3 linked regions of the Homo sapiens genome follow. The protein of the gene in region 1 purifies or fractionates together with the protein of each later gene. This does not show direct contact. Each region holds a gene or a part of one and is shown in the gene's direction. Other genes may lie near its edges. The genes, in order: ABHD10, KCMF1 and UBR5.

Region 1 (3,753 bases):
GGAAACAAATTTGTCTACTTCAAGCTCATCACTGTCCGTAAAAGCATCTGTACTTGCTACTGGCCATAATTTTTTCTAATTTGTTAGACAACAAGAGTGAATACAGAAAACAATCCATGGGTTTCTCTGCTTTTCTGTGCAGTGATTTTCCCACTATGACCAGTCAGATTTTTCATCTTACTGCAAGTAAAATGCAAGAAGACTTGCAAAAATAAAGGGGAAGAAAAGGGAGAGAAGTGATTGAGAATATTTGCAATTATCCAAAACATGCAGAGAGAAGTGTTTGTTAAGATATAAGGGATGGGCCAGGTGCGGTGGCTCACACCTGTAATTCCAGCACTTTGGGAAGCCAAGGGGGGTGGATCACCTGCAGTCAGGAGTTCGAGACCAGCCTGGCCAACATGGTGAAACCCCATCTCTACTAAAAATACAAAAATTAACCAGGCATGGTGGTCGGTGCCTGTAATCCCAGCTATTCAGGAGGCTGAAGCAGGAGAATCGCTTGAACCCAGGAGGTGGAGGTTGCAGTGAGCTGAGATCGCCCCATTGCACTCCAGGCTGGGTGACAAGAGCGAGACTCAGTCTAAAACATACACACACACACACACAAAAACCCAAAAAAGAAATATAAGGGATGATGAAATGACATGCATCAGGCATCACCTTAGTGATTTAGTCCCTTAGAGTCTACAACAGGTCTAATGGAGAACGGGCAACATAGCTCAGCATCTTTTGGAGTATGTCCTGAAATCAAGTTGCTGTCCTTAACTATATGTCCTTAGTAGAGAGAGGCATCCCACCTCTCAAGAAAGAGATCTATTCAGTCTTTATTTATCTAACTGTTCCAGACTGTTCCAACAGTCCAGGTTCTCACGACTCCAAAGACATGCTGGATTCACTATATCCAAACTTTGCCTTTAATTCTGGTACCAATTACTGCCCCCCAAATTTATAACCAGGATAATAAAAGTTACTTTACTATCTTATATATACTCAAAGTATTACACAAGCCACCATAACTTTTAAATAGGAAACTACTACGTAAAACTCCATGGTTGATGCTTGAGGCCCCCAGGAATTAGTTTGAAAGGTATTTAGAGCTGGAGTCCGGAAACCCTTGTACTACAATTTATTCAACTATTTTTCTATTGTTAGCCATTCCCATTTTTTTCCTTCTCTTTGCCTCTAAAAACGGTGTAGTAGATAATATGCAGTCTTAAGAACTAGTGTTGTTTTTCTATAGGATAATCACAAATTGGTGCCACTGCGTTAAAAGGCACTGGAATGGATGCATATTTTAAAATTGTAATAGATGTGGCCATATTACTTCACAACAAATTTTAGTAATTCACCTTCCTAGCAATCATACATAAGTGCTAGTGTCTAGCATCCTTGCCAATTATTTTTCTTTTTTGCCAACTGAATGGGGGGAAAAAGGCATTATTTTTTTAATTCCAGTTTTTCATTTAGTGAGTTTGAGCATCATGTTTCCTTATATGGGCTGCCTATTTATAGCTGTTGGCCAATTTTATTTGAATTATATTTCTTATTTATAGGAGCAGGCTGAGTAGAAGTATTAATGTATCTATGCTACAAAATCCATTTTTCTAAGCTCTTAACTTGAGGTGTCTTTTGCCATTCAAAAAGTTTAAATTCGTATACAAATATATTTTTTATTTATGATGTTGGGGTTTTGAAATCTTGGTTAAGAAAGTCCCTTCTGTCCCCGGATTATATAATATTCTCCTAAAATTTATTTAATCCTCTCAGTTGTATTCTTCCGTTGAAATCTTTTTTTACTGAAATTTATTTTCGCATATAGCACGAGGAGGGGGCCAAGATAATTCAGTATTTCGTTAATCAGGCATATAGATCTAGAGCGGGGAATGTCCGATACCATTCCAGGTTATACAGGCGAGATTAATGTCAGATCTTGGGAGCATTTCCAGTACAGGTTAAAACTGTCACGCGGTCGGCGGGATTGCAGGTGATGCAGCAAGCCTGGTGTCCTCGACAGGAGACGTTTCCCATCTAGGACCGTTGGATAGGGTTCCTTTCTGAGCTTCCAGCTCTGTAGTATCTATCAGCCCGCTGATAGGGCAGCCTCCCGACGCCACTCAAAACATCTTAAAGGCCCCAAGCCAAACCCCGCTACTAGTAGAACCAACAGTCTAAACGAAAGAGCCACGACGCTCTGCGCATGTGCGCTCTTCGCAAGCTGAAAATCTTGCGGGGAGCTCTTTAGCAAGTTCCGCCTTCCAGCCTGAAGCGCATGCGCAGCCTCGGTTCCGTTGCGTAGCGTGTCCCTCAGTGGGACACTGCAGGGTGCGGGGACAACTACGAAGATGGCGGTTGCGCGCTTGGCAGCTGTGGCGGCCTGGGTACCTTGTCGGAGCTGGGGCTGGGCAGCCGTCCCCTTCGGTCCCCACCGTGGCCTCAGCGTGCTGCTTGCACGGATACCTCAGCGGGCGCCACGGTGGCTCCCAGGTCAGTGTCCGAAAGGCGGGAGTAGGATGCGTTCTTTCGAACGCCTCGGGTTCCGTCAGTTACCGTGCCTGTGCAGTGCGTCTTTGGCGCCCGGTTCAAAAATGCTCCTCCCCCTTTCTCAACACCCCAGTTCTAGGCGCTTTGTAGACTTCTGGTGAAGGCTGTGAGGAGAGCTCTGCCGCGGCCCTGCGGCATTCTGGGCACCCCGGGCCCTCGCTGGCGTTTTACACTGTGCAGTTTAAAGAGCTCCTGCTCCTTACCTGCCTCCCCTGCATTAAAGGCCAACACTAGAAAAAATTAAAATGTGCATTTAATGCATTATTATTAGTTACTTCTAGGAATTTGTAGATTGTGACTCCTAAAATGCTTAGACTGACTCTCCTTTGAGTTTAGGGAACCTAACAATGCGAGGCATGTTCTTTGTAAAAGTGTAGACGCCCTCATAAGCCTAATTTCTAGTTCTGCTTTCTTGCTGCACCCACTCAGTGAAAGAACCATAATCATTATTGCACAAAGGAAACTAGAATTTGGGCTAAAAATCAGAGAACCTCTTATATGTATATATAGTCTTTGAATTAGATCCTTTTATTTTTTTGGCTTTGTGTGTGGTTCACACCATTGCCACGTAGCTGTCAGATGATGCATGGTGCTTGGAGTGGTAATTAATGTCACGGCAGAGATCTTTTGTATGGAGATTTTTGTATCCAGTTTTTAAACTTTTATAATCAGATTAACTTGCATTTAATTGTGCGCAACCAAAAGGCATGTTACACATGCAAATACTCCTAGTAAAATGTAGTATGTCAATTCATTAACCAGAGTATAATATTATTTCATCTAGTTAGCACTTATTCATTGAGCACTTATGCACCAGGCTTTGAATTAATCCTTATGTTCAAAGATGATTTATGAATATAATTATATGAATCTGTCTACTTAGAACTTACATTAAATAAATTATAATCATCTCGGGGAAATTATGTTTTAAGAGGTGATTTCTGGAAGAGGATAGTGAGAATTTTTTTTAGTGCTCAGCTGAGTAGATGGGAAATGAACATGAGTGGATCAGCATAACTGGTCCTTACCAAAAGTTTTAAATTTGGCATATTTCTCTATACTTTGAAACAAGCTTTTATGTAAAAAGGATAACTTTAAGGCCTTCAGTTACATCTTTAAAAAATCAACTTCTTAATTACAAAATGGGGAAAACTTTAGCAGCACACATGGATTCTCTTCTCAAGACTGAGAAGTTTTCAAAGTGGAGGA
Region 2 (3,753 bases), on another chromosome or scaffold:
AAAGTGCTGGGATTACAGGCGTGAGCCACCACGCCCAGCCTCCGTGTTTCTTTAGTGGTGTAATTTTTGCACTCTCAGTCATCTGTCCACCTCCAAATTCTCTGTAGTTCTCATTTCCTTTCAGTAGTGTGATCCTGAACTGGATATAATAGTCTGGTAAAAGGTTTGAACAAGCCTATCATGTTGTACTTGCTTGGTGCTTCCTTTTCAGGGCCTTATGTGTGCAGGTAATATGTTACTTTGTCTTTGTACCCACCCTAATGAATTACACTAAATCCTATGATTTTATTAATGTAACTTTGGATGACACAGTCCTGAGATGGACACCTGTCAAGCTTGAAGGCTCAACCTTGTGAAGCAGTGCCTCTGAGAAAGGCAATGCAACCAGGAGCATAGAGAGATGCTCTAGTCCCGGGTTCAGCATGCTTCTTCTGTAAAGGGCTAGGTGGCAAACATTGCAGGCTTGGCGGAGCTGTAATAGTACGAAAGCAGCTATAGACAACCTGTAATTGAAAGATCATGGCTCTGTTCCAATTAAAACTTTATTTGTGGACACTGACATTTTAATTTCATATATATATATATATATATATATATATATATATTTTTTTTTTTTTTTTTTTTTTTTTTTTTTTTGAGACACAGTCTTGCTCTGTTGCCCAGGCTAGGGTGCAGTGGCGTGATCTTGGCTCACTGCAACCTGCACCTCCCGGGTTCAAGTGATTCTCCTGCCTCAGCCTCCCGCGTAGCTGGGATTGCAGGCGCCCACCACTGCGCCCGGCTAATTTTTGTATTTCGTTTAGTAGAGATGGGGTTTCACCATGTTGGCCAGGGTGGTCTCAAACTCCTGACCTCGTGATCCGCCGGCCTCGGCCTCCCAAAGTGGTGGGATTACAGGCGTAAGCCACCGCACCTGGCCGAATTTCATATAATTTTCATGTGTCATGAAATATGATTTGTCATTTGACACCCCCACCATTCAAAAATACAAATAACCATTCTTAACTTTCGGGCTATATAAAAGCTGGTGGTGGACCGGCCGTGGTGGCTCACGCTGAGGCAGAGAATTGCTTGAACCCAGGAGGTGGAGGTTGCAGTGAGCTGAGGTCGTGCCACTGCACTCCAGCCTGGGCGACAGAGTGAGAATCCATCTCCAAAAAAAAAAGTGGTGGTTGGATTTGGCCTGAGGGCTGTAGTTTGCCTTACTTTACCTCTGCCCTAGACTGGCGCTTTAGAGAGTTGATAGAGCTTGAACTATCAAGAGTCTAGAAGGGGCCCAGTCAGCTTGGGATTCCGTCATTTTCTTTGGGTGATGGGAAATGAGTTCACAGACTGAACCAGCTCCTCCGTACTTCACTTTTCAGCAGCACCATGAGGAATGGAAATAATTGTTCCTCAGGAGTGGACAACAGGCTCCCCACCCTACAGACCCTTAGTGGAGATGGCAGTACCCTACATTTTTCCTGCTTGCCCGTTAATACTTTTCCAGTGAGAATTGTAGGGCCACTTTTAACTCACTTTGTGGTGTTCTTGTCATGTTAACATTTTATAGACTTTAGCACCCACTTTGTGTTCACCCTGCCAACACTGTCTAGTTCACAGTGAACCCAATCATTTTTTATCTTGATGTATTTTTTAAAATGTCTCACTATCATACTTTCAAATACATTTAAAATGTAAGTATGTTATTCAGAGCTTAAAATCTACTTTTAAAGCTTTCCAAATAAAAAAAAGCAACTTAACAAATTGCTCGCTGCTTATTAGCTAAAATGAAATCATGAATGTTCTTGCATAGATTAGAGCCTAATTGATTACCTGGATCTAGGTACATGTGTCGCCTTAAATCATTCAACCTTTCAGTCACTACTATGTGTAAGGCAGTCTGCTAGGTTCCAAGGAATGTGGGGCTAAGTGAATAAGATGCAGCTCCTTACTTTAAGTCTGGCAAGGAAGATGCATTTTTTACGTAGCTTCCACAGTGCATTGTGAAACATGCCATAAGGAAGGGATAAACACTGATGACAAAGTAATTGCCAACTTTTACTAATTTTGTCAAATTTCAGAGAGGTACTCTACTGTGATTCTAGCACTTTTTTCTTGAGTGCCTTCTTAACTCCTTTTTTTTTTTTTTTTTTTAAAGACAGAGTCTCGCTCTGTCGCCCAGGCTGGAATGCAGTGGCGTGATCTTGTCTCACTACATCCTCCACCTCCTGTGTTCGAGTGATTCTCCTGCCTCAGCCTCCCGAGTAGCTCGGATTATAGGCACCTGCCACTGCTACTGGCTAATTTTTCTATTTTTAGTGGAGACAGGTTTCACCATGTTGGCCAGGCTGGTCTCGAACTCCTGACCGCAAGTGATCCACCCACCTCAGCCTCCTAAAGTGCTGGGATTACCGGTATGAGCCACCACGCCCAGCACCTTCTTAACTCTTTCTGGGCTACTTTTGATTTTGGGTAAAATTGTTTGAGATTTCAAGCCGGTTGCAGTGATGTGCACATGTAGTCCCAGCTAGATGGGAGGCTGAGAGACCCTATTTCTTTAAAAAAAAAAAAACAAAAAAAAACAAATTGAGATTTCAAGTAGAGTCCTTATCTTTATCTGATTTATAATTTCTCTAGCTTTTTGAAGATTTTCACATGTAAAAATGATAGTGGATAAATGAGCAGGTGGTCATATTGTTATGCTAGTTTCAGAAGTATCTGATACTATTTATTTTTAAAATGTAAAATACAAGACTACGTAGGCCATTAATCTACTTAGTCCCAACTTTTTTTGTTTTTATTTTTTTAATTGGCAAAAATTGTATATATTTATCATGTATAACATGATGTTTTGAAATATGTATACATTGTAGAATGGCAGCTCCAACTTTTTGAAAGTTGTACCACTCTTTTCTTAGTAGATTCTAATTTTCTCTCTCTCTCTCCTTTTTTATAATTATTTTTTTTTACTCTCTGTTGCCCAGGCTAGAGTAGAGTACATTGGTGGGATCTTGGCTTACTGCAACCTCCATCTCCCAGGCTCAAGTGATCCTCCCATCTCAGCCTCCCAGAGTGTTGGGATTACAGGTGTGAGCCATTGCTCCTAGCCTTAATTTTCTCTTCTCAAAAAATGTTATCTGCCACTGAAGCACACATATAGACAGAAATAATTTGGTTTTGGGATTTGGGGACTGCAAAGCCAAGATTGGTAATTAGCATGTGATTTTAATGCAGTGCCTTTTGCCTCCCTATAGAAATGTAAGTGGACTCCCACTGATAAGATCCTTACCATCAGGTCTTCTTACAACTTATTGTACTTTAACTGTAATCTGTTAACAGATTATGACATTCTTAAGACTTTTTCAGTTCGTTTTTTGTTTTTGAGACAGGGTCTCTGTCGCCCATGCTGCGCACCAGCATAGCCCGCTGCAGCATTGACCTCGCAGGCTCAAAGAATCCTCCCACTTCAGCCTCCATAGCAGGTCGGACCACAGGTGTGCGCCCCACACCCGACTTTTTTTTTTTTTCTTTTTTGTAGAGACTGGATCTTCCAGTATTGCCTAGGCTGGTCTCAAACTCCTGGGCTCAAGTGATTCTCCCACCTCAGCTCTCGAGTACTGGGATTATAGGTGTGAGCTGCCATGCCCAGCAACTTTTTCAGTTTGAATAAATCGTAAATTACATTTACCTTGACTTTCAATAGAGAATATATAAGAATGTAAATTTATGGGAAAATGAATCACATTTTAATTTCTGGGGTCTTTGATTTCA
Region 3 (3,753 bases), on another chromosome or scaffold:
GCCTCCCAAAACATTGGGATTACAGGCATTAGCCACTATACCTAGTCTGTTTTGGCAGTATTATACATACTAACTGCATAACTTCTTAAAGTAACCACTTTGAGGGGCCTATAGTTCTTGTGGATGTTTGTTCTAGGATGTTTGTTTTAAAAAAGAAATACTCATTAGTTGTGGCTTCACACAGTGCTTTTATGTTTTAATATTGAAATCTCTTTAGTGGTTGGAAATACCCTTTTTCATCTCTACAGATTTTCTCTTAGCCTTTCCCACTTTTGTAATCCACGATCTCTGTTTTACCAGTTACTTATAGTTCTAGTGTTAAACATCATATTGAGACTACTTATCTGTTTGTTTGAAGGCATGGTGTTTCAGTCAACTCTCAGGTCTAATTGGTTTGATTCTCATTTCTCATAGCAACTGAGATAGGAAAGAACCTGTCAGTGCAATCACTTAAAGGTCTTTTGACTTCAACATCTTTTACCCCGTTTCATAATCTATAAATAATAGGTGACAGGGTTATTTAGCCACCAGTTTCAGATTTCTGGCCTGTATTTTAAGCTGTATTTTCTGGTTCCCCCTTTTTGTTTTATAATCCAGTCAACTGTCTTTTCTTGGTTGTCTCCAAATCAGGTGTTTAGGGAAGTGAAACTTTTGCCACTTTGCCTTTGGTTATGACTACTTTAAAATCATGCTTTTGAACTGATGTTTTCCCCACACACATCAGCAAGTCATTAGTTAATAAGCTCATTCAAAATAGAAATCATGTCAGATCTCTTAAAAGTTAGATCACTTCTATTAAACACTTGCTGTTAATGGACAGATGGTGCTACCAGAGTTTTTAGAAATAGAACTGCTGGTGGAGGAGGAAAAATCTTCCTGTAGAATTTTTCGATGGGATGGACTCATACAAATAATGTGCATCAACACAGATTTGAAATGACTTAAAAAGAAAAAACATATTCTGAGATTTATATTTTCTGATATATAGATTAAGTATTGTTGGTTTCTAAGAATTCTCAGCTCAGATTTAAAGTCACATCCTAGCAAGTGTCTCACATGTAATAAATGAGTTAAATAAAAATATGTGTTGCATATCTGAGCTGTGGCAGGAGCCCACTCATAAGCTTCTGATTCTTTACAGCTCCAGTCAGTCTCAGTCATCCTACATCATCAGGAATCCACAGCAGAGGCGCATCAGCCAGTCACAGCCCGTTCGGGGCAGAGATGAAGAACAGGATGATATTGTTTCAGCAGATGTGGAAGAGGTGATTTTAATTGTGGTAGATTTAAAAAGCTTTTATTTTATGAGAAAAGAAGAGTAGTCAGTAGAAATTACATTAATAGTAGCTTGAGACTACTATATGCGTTTGCATCCAGTTTGTAGATGTTTATTATATATTCTCATTTGTGGTTATACATAGTAAAATTATTTTAATAATTTGTGACTTACTGGATATTAGGAAATTGGACACAAACTTGTCTTTAAGGATTAAGGGTGGAGATATTCTCAGTGTTAACAGCAAAGATATTCTGGGTTTTTTTTTTTTTTTTTGGAGACAGAGTCTCGCTCTGTCACCCAAGCTGGAGTGCAGTGGCGTGATCTCGGCTCACTGCAACCTCTGCCTCCCGGGTTCAAGCGATTCTCCTGCCACAGCCTCCTGAGTAGCTGGGATTACAGGCGCGCACCACCACACCCATCTAATTTTTGTATTTTTTAGTAGAGACGGGGTTTCACTATGTTGGTCAGGCTGGTCTCGAACTCCTGACCTCGTGATCCACCTGCCTCAACCTCCCTAAGTGCTGGGATTACAGGTGTGAGCCACCGCGCCCAGCCAAGATATTCGTAATGTTAGAAAAATTTAGTAGTTTTGTACAATGTATTTGAAAGAGGATACTACATATTTATGAGGTAAATTCTCTCCTCCCTGCCCCTAGTATAATTTTTATACTTCTAACTTGAGGGTTCTGTATATGCTCAGTAATGAACTTTGGGATCTGTGGGTATAATTTTTTTATTTTTTTGAGATGGAGTCTTGCTCTGTTGCCAGGCTGGAATGCAGTGGTGCAATCTTGCCTCACTACAACCCCCACCTCCCGGGTTCAAGCAATTCTCCTGCCTCCGCCTCCTGAGTAGCTGAGACTACAGGCACGCACCATGCCCAGCTAATTTTTGTATTTTTAGTAGAGTCGGGGTCTCACCATGTTGGCCAGGATGGTCTTGATCTCTTGACCTTGTGATCCGCCCATCTCCGTCTCGGCCTCCCAGAGTGTTGGAATTACAGGTGTGAGCCACCGTGCCCGGCCAGGATATAATTTTTGATAGCAAATTGTCACTAACAAATGAAGATTTTCAAAACTGCTTGATATATGATTTCAAATTCTCTATAGTTAGTGGTCTTCGCATTTTAGTTAACTAGCTTTGATTGTCTACAAATAAGATTCTGGATTTAGGTTGAGGTGGTGGAGGGTGTGGCTGGAGAAGAGGATCATCATGATGAACAGGAAGAACACGGGGAAGAAAATGCTGAGGCAGAGGGACAACATGATGAGCATGATGAAGACGGTATGCAGGTTATTTGAGAAATTACTCAGTATGAGTAAATCAGGTACTTTTAAAGGGAGATATTAAATACAGAGAGAAACCTCATTTGAATGTATAGTGAAATGGTCAAACTTATTTTTTGCCAAGGGTTTCTGTAGCATCTATTTAGAAAATTTAGGCGCTATATATAATACATATATAAAATAGTTTCCCTTTTTTCTTTTTAAGTCAGTTTCTTAAAAGACTTTTAAAAACTAAAATAATCATAGTCGCATTATGAAACATTTGGAAATTAGAGAAAAGGAAAATAAATCACCCATAATTACACCCAGATGCTAATAGCTTGTATATTTACTTTCAGTCCTCCCCTGCACTGCCCTGATGTACTAGTCTGTTGACTACCATAATTTCCCTAGCCATTCTTCTAAGGTTGAGTAGTTACTTAGTCTTATTTTAGTAGTTATCCCTTCTCTTTCACACCATTCCCCTTCTCCCCAACTCCTACCCCCTATGCCTTCTTAGTTCCCACCCTTACGATATTCTGGCTTATCAGACCCTGTTTTAAACCATAGTGAGTTTGTGCTTTTTTCTTATTTAAATGTATTTTTTAGGGAGTGATATGGAGCTGGACTTGTTAGCAGCAGCTGAAACAGAAAGTGATAGTGAAAGTAACCACAGCAACCAAGATAATGCTAGTGGGCGCAGAAGCGTTGTCACTGCAGCAACTGCTGGTTCAGAAGCAGGTATGTTGCCTTATCCCAACTACTTTCTTGCTTATGCTAAGGCTGTGTGTGTGTATTCAGCGTGGATTGGGTCATACTTTGTGTGATATACGCAAGGGTAGCTAAGCATTTTTATAACTTCATCCTTGTTCTCTGGGTATTAGAAAAGAAAGTATTATTTTAATAACTCTTTCTCCAGCTTTTCTGGTCATTAAATAATGAATGAATTTTAAAGTTTCTTTAAAAGATTTTTATTTTCTTGCCTTTTTTTTTTTTTTTTTTTTTTTTAAATTGGGTCTCATTCTGTCACCAGGCTGGATATTCCAGTGGTGCAGTCAGAGCTCTTTGCAGCCTTGACCTCCTGAGCTCCTACCTCAGCCCCCTGAGTAGCTGGGTCTACTAGGTGCAAGCCACCACATCGGGCTAATTTTTTTTTTTAAAGAGTTGGGATCTTACTGTGTTGCCCAGGCTGGTCTTGAGCTCCTGAGC

What was found.
Region 2: the proteins of ABHD10 (region 1) and KCMF1 purify together in Homo sapiens (affinity purification with mass spectrometry; 5 studies listed by BioGRID and IntAct, with this or other methods). This does not show direct contact.
Region 3: the proteins of ABHD10 (region 1) and UBR5 purify together in Homo sapiens (co-immunoprecipitation; 2 studies listed by BioGRID and IntAct, with this or other methods). This does not show direct contact.

Annotation. Positions count from the first base shown.
Region 1 is NC_000003.12:111,976,717-111,980,469, forward strand, and holds the start of ABHD10 (palmitoyl-protein thioesterase ABHD10, mitochondrial isoform 1 precursor), read left to right. Parts: upstream 1-2,309; 5' UTR 2,310-2,345; coding exon 2,346-2,487; intron 2,488-3,753. UniProt on the Homo sapiens protein: Acts as an acyl-protein thioesterase that hydrolyzes fatty acids from acylated residues in proteins.
Region 2 is NC_000002.12:84,974,088-84,977,840, forward strand, and holds part of KCMF1 (E3 ubiquitin-protein ligase KCMF1), read left to right. Parts: intron 1-3,753. UniProt on the Homo sapiens protein: E3 ubiquitin-protein ligase which accepts ubiquitin from an E2 ubiquitin-conjugating enzyme and then transfers it to targeted substrates, promoting their degradation by the proteasome.
Region 3 is NC_000008.11:102,286,965-102,290,717, reverse strand, and holds part of UBR5 (E3 ubiquitin-protein ligase UBR5), read left to right. Parts: intron 1-1,141; coding exon 1,142-1,265; intron 1,266-2,451; coding exon 2,452-2,563; intron 2,564-3,153; coding exon 3,154-3,285; intron 3,286-3,753. UniProt on the Homo sapiens protein: E3 ubiquitin-protein ligase involved in different protein quality control pathways in the cytoplasm and nucleus. Mainly acts as a ubiquitin chain elongator that extends pre-ubiquitinated substrates.